Homo sapiens: one gene and its partner. The protein of the gene in region 1 interacts with the protein of each later gene in a pairwise test. Each region holds a gene or a part of one and is shown on either strand. Other genes may lie near its edges.

Evidence for each region. The genes of interacting proteins can lie anywhere in the genome.
Region 2: the proteins of PLEKHA5 (region 1) and KANSL1 interact in a two-hybrid assay, tested with the Homo sapiens proteins (one large-scale study listed by BioGRID and IntAct).

Annotation. Positions count from the first base shown.
Region 1 is NC_000012.12:19,356,331-19,360,490, reverse strand, and holds part of PLEKHA5 (pleckstrin homology domain-containing family A member 5), read right to left. Parts: intron 2,264-4,160; coding exon 2,054-2,263; intron 1,080-2,053; coding exon 945-1,079; intron 1-944.
Region 2 is NC_000017.11:46,032,930-46,036,759, reverse strand, and holds part of KANSL1 (KAT8 regulatory NSL complex subunit 1), read left to right. Parts: intron 1-2,474; coding exon 2,475-2,599; intron 2,600-3,299; coding exon 3,300-3,357; intron 3,358-3,567; coding exon 3,568-3,680; intron 3,681-3,830. UniProt on the Homo sapiens protein: Non-catalytic component of the NSL histone acetyltransferase complex, a multiprotein complex that mediates histone H4 acetylation at 'Lys-5'- and 'Lys-8' (H4K5ac and H4K8ac) at transcription start sites and promotes transcription initiation.

The DNA.
Region 1 (4,160 bases):
TGATTACAGGCATGTGTCACTGTGCCTGGCTAACTCTTGTATTTTTTAGTAGATATGGGGTTTCACTATGTTTGCGAGGCTGATCTCGAACTCCGGGCCTCAAGTGATCCACTCGCCTTGGCCTCCAAAGTGCTGGGATTACAGGCATGAGCCACTGTGCCCGCCACGTTTTTTTTGTTTTTTTTTTTGAAACAGGATCTCACTCTGTGGCCCATCTCTACTCACTGCGACTTGGGCTCAGGTGATCCTCCCACCTCAGCTTCCCCAGTAGCAGTTGGGACTACAGGTGCATGCCACCACACCTGGCTAATTTTTGTATTCAGTATTGGCAGGGTTTCACCATGTTGCCCAGGCTGGTCTCAAACTTCTGGGCTCAAGTGATCCGCCTGCCTCAGCTTCTCAAAGTGCTGGGATTACACACACCAGCCACCGTGCCCAGTCAATTAATGCATATCTTGATGTGGCTGAATACATCAATCAAACTAAAGAAAGCTTAATTTTTCCTTTTTCTTTTTTTTTTTGAGATGGAGTCTCCCTCCCTCTGTCGCCCAGGCTGGAGTGTAGTGGCGCGATCTCGGCTCACTGCAAGCTCCGCCTCCCAGATTCACGCCATTCTCCTGCCTCAGCCTCCCCAGTAGCTGGGACTACAGGAGCCTGCCACCAAGCCCGGCTAATTTTTTTTTGCATTTTTAGTAGAGACGGGGTTTTACCGTGTTAGCCAGGATGGTCTCGATCTCCTGACCTCGTGATTCGCCTGCCTCAGCCTCCCAAAGTGCTGGGATTACAGACGTGAGCCACCGCGCCCGGCCAGAAAGCTTATTTTTTCATTTAGCTCTATGGACTCTGTGACTGAAAGAAACACACTTTATTTTCAACCTTACCACTTGATTTAATCTTCACAAATCTATTCCTTTGGAATACCTTTCATAAAATAATCTCGCTACCTCTTTGCTGAAGTCCACATTTTGGGGTTCGGTTTCTTTTAGTTGAACAATTTCTGTTGCAGGAGTTTCATGGTCTGGCTTTACATCATTTTCTCTAATGGCAGTGTCCAGTTCCTTATCATCCCTCCTTCGAGTCTGCTCAAAAGACATATAGCATTTTTATACTCATACTGTGCATGCATGTATATTTTATAAATAGTGCCTGTTAATTCTCAAAATAGAACAAAGCTGGATCTCCACTCATGAAGAAGTTTTCCTATGAAAACTAACAAAGAAAATTTATATATATAGCACTATTCCACACATTTTTCTCAACTCTTTTAAAAAAAACCATTCATTTTGTAATTTGCAGAATGTGCCACAATTCAAACTGTTGCTTTGTTTAGTCTCCATTAGCAATGCCTGCACTTGATTCGGTGGAAAGAGGGGATATTCATTAGGACAGGAAAGCATGTTCAGCTGATGCATTCAGTTTATGCCATTATAGACAAACTTTTAAGATACTATTGCTAGGTGACAAGTGTCTACAAACAGGGAAAGACCAGACAGAAGCTACTGAACAGGTTGGCTAGGCTGCTGTCTCTGAATTTATAAAGAGGGGCAAAAAACAAAAAGAAACAAAATGGCATCACTTTATAAGCCTGAAGTTGAGAGGTGATGGACAGCACACTTGGAACTTTATTTAGAAGCTCTCTCCTGCTACAATTTAGGTCATGTTAAATCAGGACACAGAGCAATACATATTTTATTGAGAGGGGAATTGGGGACTATCTTGGTAACCTGCATAGCATTTTACATTTGTTGAAAACCCTTTTATTTTCTTAGTGTCTCTAAGGAGTCTGGGCAGCTGTATCATCACTGTAAAGTTGAAGACATTAAGTCCACAACTAGTCCACGGGCATCCAACATGTAGTTTAGCTCTGGTCTCTTGAACTCAGGGTTATTTACATTTTACTTAGCTGTCTTAGCTTATTATTAGGAGAATTAAATAATATAAAATAAGTATCCATACTGCAGACCTTTTAAGACCTATCAATCATGTAACTCTGATTCCAAAATTCAGTGATACTAGATTTACACAAAATAATAATCAAATGCAATTCATATACCTGAGTAGTCCTAAATGGATTATCCCTTAAATTTGAAGGGCTTTGTAAGGGTGACTGGTCTGAAGCACCGATAACATTTAACCCTTTTTTCTTCTCCCTCAGGCACGCTTGTTGATGTCTTCTTATTCTTTCCATTTGCTCTTCCACAGTCATCCTTGGTCGAGTACTTTCAGCCAAACAGAGCTGTTCCACTGCACTTCTTGGTCTTTCCTTCAATGTAAAAATGAACATATCAATACATAAATGAAAACTTCTGAAAAGTATGATGGAATAAAAAATGTTGTAAAGTGCATTTATTTATTTTGTTTTCAAAATCACAAGAAGAGGTTTTGAATGTCATTTAGATATCACCAGAAAGGCACATGAAATTGCTATTTGATCCTTAACTAGTAATTGGTGATGTATGCTCAATAACAGAAAGAAAAAGAGACGATATTATAAGGGAGGAGAGAGAAAAGAGGAATAGAAAATATTTTTTTGGCTTAAAAAAAAAATATGGACCAGGAGTGGTGGCTCACACCTATAATCCCAGCACTTTGGGACCCTGAGGTGGGTGGATTACTTGAGCCCAGGAGTTTGAGACCAGCCTGGGCAACATGGTAAAAACCCGTCTCTACCAAAAATACAAAAATTAGCCAGGCAGGTGTGGTGGTATATGCCTATAGTCCCAGCTACTTGGGAGGCTGAGGTAGGAGGATGGTTTGAGCCCAGGAGGTGGAGGTTGCAGCGAGCTGAGATCGTGCTACTGCACTCCAGCATGCAGATGACATGACAGAGCCAGATGCCATCTCAAACAAACAAACAAACAAACAAACAAACCCCCATAACTCAGTTCCAGTAAATCTGGGTAAAACAAAAAACACCATCACCACCACCATAAAAGGGCAGGGCAGGCTGGGTGCAGTGGCTCACGCCTATAATCCCAGTACTTTGGGAGGCTGAGGCAGGTGGATCACTTGAGATCAGGAGTTCAAGACCAGCCTGGCCAACATGGCGAAACCCTGTCTCTATAAAAGTACAAAAAATTTAGCCAGGCATGGTGGCTCATGCCAGTAGTCCCAGCTACTCGGGAGGCTGAGGTGGGAGAATTGCTTGAACCCAGGAGGCAGAGGTTGTAGTGAACTGAGATTGTGCCAACCTGGGCAATGAGTGAGAGTCTGTCTCAAAAAAAAAAAAAAAAAAAGAATATAAAGAATATGGCAGCTCTGGAGCAAGCCAGTCCCATGACCCTGAAATAGAAAATTGCATAAAACTTGACCCTGAAAGAGAAAACTGAATAAAACTCAAATGAGGAGAAAAGCAGGGGCACAGTGTCTAAATATTAGAGATTTCTTTTATTTTGATGAAAACGTAATGTTTTAAGTTATACATTTACCGTGAAAAGACTAATAAAACAAACACCTCTATTTTCTTTCTCATCAGTAATAAAACTACGAAAACACTTATTTTCTATAAATCAGTCATATTTGAAAATGCTTAGGCCGGGCGCGGTGGCTCACACCTGTAATCCCAACACTTTGGAAGGCCGAGGCAGGCAGATCACGAGGTCAGGAGTTAGAGACCAGCCTGGCCAACATGGTGAAACCCTGTGTCTACTAAAAATACAGAAATTAGCTGGGCATGATGGCGGGCGCCTGTAGGCCCAGCTACTCGGGAGGCCGAGGCAGGAGAATCATTTGAACCCGGGAGGCAGAGGTTGCAATGAGCTGAGATCACGCCATTGCACCTGGGCGACAGGGAGAGACTCTGTCTCAAAAAAAAAAAAAAAAAAAAAAGAAAAACAACTTCCTCTTCTTCCACCCAGTCAATGTGAAGATGATGAGGATGAAGATCTTTATGATGAACTATTTCCACTTAATAAGTGGTAAAATATATTTTCCCTTATAATTTTAATTAATTTTATTTATTTATGTATTTATTTTTTGAGACAGGCTGTCACTCTGCTGCCTAGGCTGGGGTGCAGTGGAGCAATCATGGCTCACCTCGACCTCCTGGGCTCAAGTGATCCACCCTATCTCAGCTTCTTGAGTAGGTGAGACCATAGGCACAGGCCACCATGCCTGGCTAATTTTTTTTGGTAATTTTTGTAGAGATGGGGTCTCCTTAT
Region 2 (3,830 bases), on another chromosome or scaffold:
CGTCGCAGCAAGACTTCGTCTCAAAAAAAAAAAAAGAAAGAAGATAGGCCAGATAACAGCAGGCTCTCAGTATCTGCAGTATCTGCAGTGGGGATTGGTTCCAGGACCTCCCATAGATAGCAAAAGCTATTGTTGCTCATGTCCCTAATATAAAATGGCATAGTATTTGCATATAACCTATGTGTATGCTTTAAATCCCATATACTTTAAATCATCTCCAGATTACTGATAATACCTAATGCAATGTAAATGCTATAAAAATAGTATGCTGTATTGTTTAGAGAATAATGAAAAGAAAAATCTGTACCTTTTCAGTACAGACACAATTTTTTTCCCCCAAATATTTTCAATCCACAATTGGTTGAACCCATGGATACAAAGGGCCAGCTCTCCTTGAAATCAAGTAAAGAAGCCAGAGGACACTGGAGAAAGGTAGGGAGGAGAGCGAGTGTTTTTGTCAGTGCTTCCCAAAAGCCAGTAGCTGCATCAGAATCACCTCAGCAGCTTTAAAAAACAAAACCAACCAACCAGACACTTCTAAAGATCTGATTTGTTGCTGGCTGTGATATTGCATGCCTGTAGCTCCAGCTACTCAGGAAGATCTCTTCAGCCCAGGAGATTGAGTCCAGCCTGGACAACATAGTGAGACCTCATCTCTTAAACAAACAAACAAACAAAATTCTGATTTTATAAAAGAGCGGGGGGGAGTCCTAGAACCTTTTTTTTTTTTTTAAAAAATACTCCTTAATGTTGCTTCTGATATACAACCAAGTTTGGGAACCAGTTTTATTCTCATCACCTGCTCTCTATCTCTGGCTCTAAATAGGAGATAGTAGTTAATTTAGACCTAATGAGTAGCTAACATAATAGGGGGTGTGTCTAGGCAGAGGATGAGATAAGAGCCCGTTGAACCATCCCACAACCTGCTCCAGTATCTTTTTCTCGAAGGTACTAACAACAAGCCCAAGAAGTTTCAGGGAAAGTGTATACCTGTTTCTGCCAGCAGTTTCACATTTATTCTTGACCAAGATACTGGGAAGGCTGTCTCTCTTGAGGCTTTCTTAAGATGCATTTCTTGTAGTGGGATGTATAATTTCAGCACAGATCTGGCAGTGGCAGAGGTCTCTGGGTATGAGATCACTAATCCTCAGCTACAGAACTCAGGCAAGATCCCCAAAAGTCTGTTTAACCATTTTGGTTAACCAGATATCCTAAATTTCTGAGGTCAATGGCAGTCATCTGATTTGATAGAGAAAGAAATTGAAGTGAAAAGGGCATTGTGGTCATCTGAAGTTATAAATGACAGTGACTGAAACTCTGGCCCAGGAAGTGCTGACTTTTAACATTCTCTGAGAATGTCCTAAGATGATAGGATGAATAAAGGGTATCTCACCGTCCAGGAACAGAGGATAGAGGGGTTAGTTATAGGGGACTTCTTACTCCTCCAACCCCTTCCCTGTGGACTGACCACACTTGGTGGTTTAGGTATAAATGCAGCCTCTTAGGTGTTTTCCAGCTGTTTTGTTGCCATGGCAGCGTGTTTGTTATGCCACTGTTTCCTTCTGGCCTCTCACAGCTCAGTTGCTAGTCTCTGTTTCAGGATAGGGTATTAACTATCTGGGCAGCAGCAGCTAGTAGACTTCTTCCTCCATCCAAGAGACTAAGCCATTTAGTTCCCTAGTCTCCCAGCTACTGTAGATGCTTACCTCTGCCTCTGATATTCGATCCTTGGAAGTCTTATTTTTCCAAGAGTTTGGTCTTCTCAACTATTTCCTATAGAAGCAAATTTCCTTTCACCAGGAATGTGAGGTATAGTCAGGTTCTCCTCTTTAGTTTCCCTCCATTCATCTCCTTTGATACAGCTAGAAAGCTCTCAGCTCTTTCCCCAAGAATCATCAAAAGAGGGGAAATCACATAAAGACTGGGCAGATGGTGGGTGCAGATTTAGCTGAAGAGTTCAGATCTTTGAGAAGGAGGTGCATTCATGACAACCAAGGTTAGATGATGTATTGAGATGGGCCTATCCTTTGGGCCTCTTTCAGCATAAGCTTTCAAGCATTGCTTTTAGGGGAGGGGCCACTATGAGTCTTAAGTCATAAACGGGGATAAAGGAAGGAAATAAAGATTGTAAAAGGAGAGGAGGTTAATAGAGGTGTATATAGAGTAGGAACCCCAACAGTTAAGATCCCAGGTACCCACCCCTATGAAATTTACGCATGAGCCCTTGAAGGAAGAGGGTGACCAGTGGGACTTATGAATGGGACTAACTCCTCATGACCACCTGGTATTTCTCCGTGAGGTTTTTTGCTGTTGGAGACTGACTCCTAGGTGGGAGCAGCTGCTATGGTCATTACTCAGCTTCAACCCAAGGACCCAGATGCTTGGTTATTGGTGATCCTGCTTTAACTCTTAGATGAATGATTTGATGTCTGTAAAATTGTACCTTCCTTTTAAACTTAATTTTTATCTTACAGCAGCAGCCAGTAAGGAGGAGAAGGGGAGAGAGCTCATTTGATATTAACAACATTGTCATCCCAATGTCTGTTGCTGCAACAACTCGCGTAGAGAAACTGCAATACAAGGAAATCCTTACGCCCAGGTAGAAGCTCAGAATAGTTGGCTCCTCTCCCCATTCTTCCTGCTATTGCCCTTTTTCCCTCTTCTCTTCTGACCAAGAGTTGGGCCCTAGTCTTTGGTTCTGTCTTCTCATTAAGAGAAATTCTTATCTGATAAGAACGAAATTATTTCTGTATATAGTTCTCTCTCATTCCATTATAGGAATACACCAAACGAACCAGCAGTCACAGCCTGGTAGGCCATTCACTTACTGGTCTAGAGACCGGTTTTGTCAACACATACAGTATGTTTTAAAATACTGAATTTGTTGTCAACATCAAAGCAGGATTTCACATAAAAATCTTTGTTTCCAGCTTTTGTTGCCAAACAGAAGATTAGGCAACCCTGGGTATGCATTTCCATATGGGAGCAATCAGCTGGTCCTGAACAGTGGTGGTCCTCTTTAAACAGGTTTCTTTTCTTGTGTTTGTCACAGTCTCTCAGCCTCAGCCTTACCCTAGGCCGCTTCTCTCATTTCTGGCCTTCTTGGGCATTTGAGTAGGTGGCCAATTTCACAGGCCTTGACAGGGTAGGGAGACTGAGCTGTGATAGGGCAGAGCCTACCCGGCAGAGAGCAGTGTCACCCACAGGTGCAGGATTCTCATCCTTGCATGGACACTTTGACCCTGCCCCCAGTTTTAGCCTGCTTGCCATCTCATGATTGTCTGTTCTTGGTTTTGCAGCTGGCGGGAGGTTGATCTTCAGTCTCTGAAGGGGAGTCCTGATGAGGAGAATGAAGAGGTAATGGCCTGGTTCTTCTGTTAGAAGAACACGTGTGTACACATGCACACATACATATGAGTGCACACACCCTAAATGGCCTGAAGACTTGTGGGTGTGAAGTGCAAGCTCCTTGTATTCCTGTCGTGACCGGGAAGAACCTAGAATGGGGTGGGACTGGTTCTTAACTCCTGGAGAAAAGAGGGGATCGATGAAGCTGCTCTATTGCAGATTGAGGACCTATCCGACGCAGCCTTCGCCGCCCTGCATGCCAAATGTGAGGAGATGGAGAGGGCACGGTGGCTGTGGACCACGAGTGTGCCACCCCAGCGGCGGGGCAGCAGGTGATGGGGCAGGCTTGGGTCCCCAGGGCCTGTGGAGAGAGGGTGGACAGGGAGTTTGGGCCCTACTTGAGTCCATGGAATTGCTACTGCCTCTTGGTTGCTCATCATACTCATCTACTGGCAGTGGCAAATAGCTCAGAATTTCCTTGG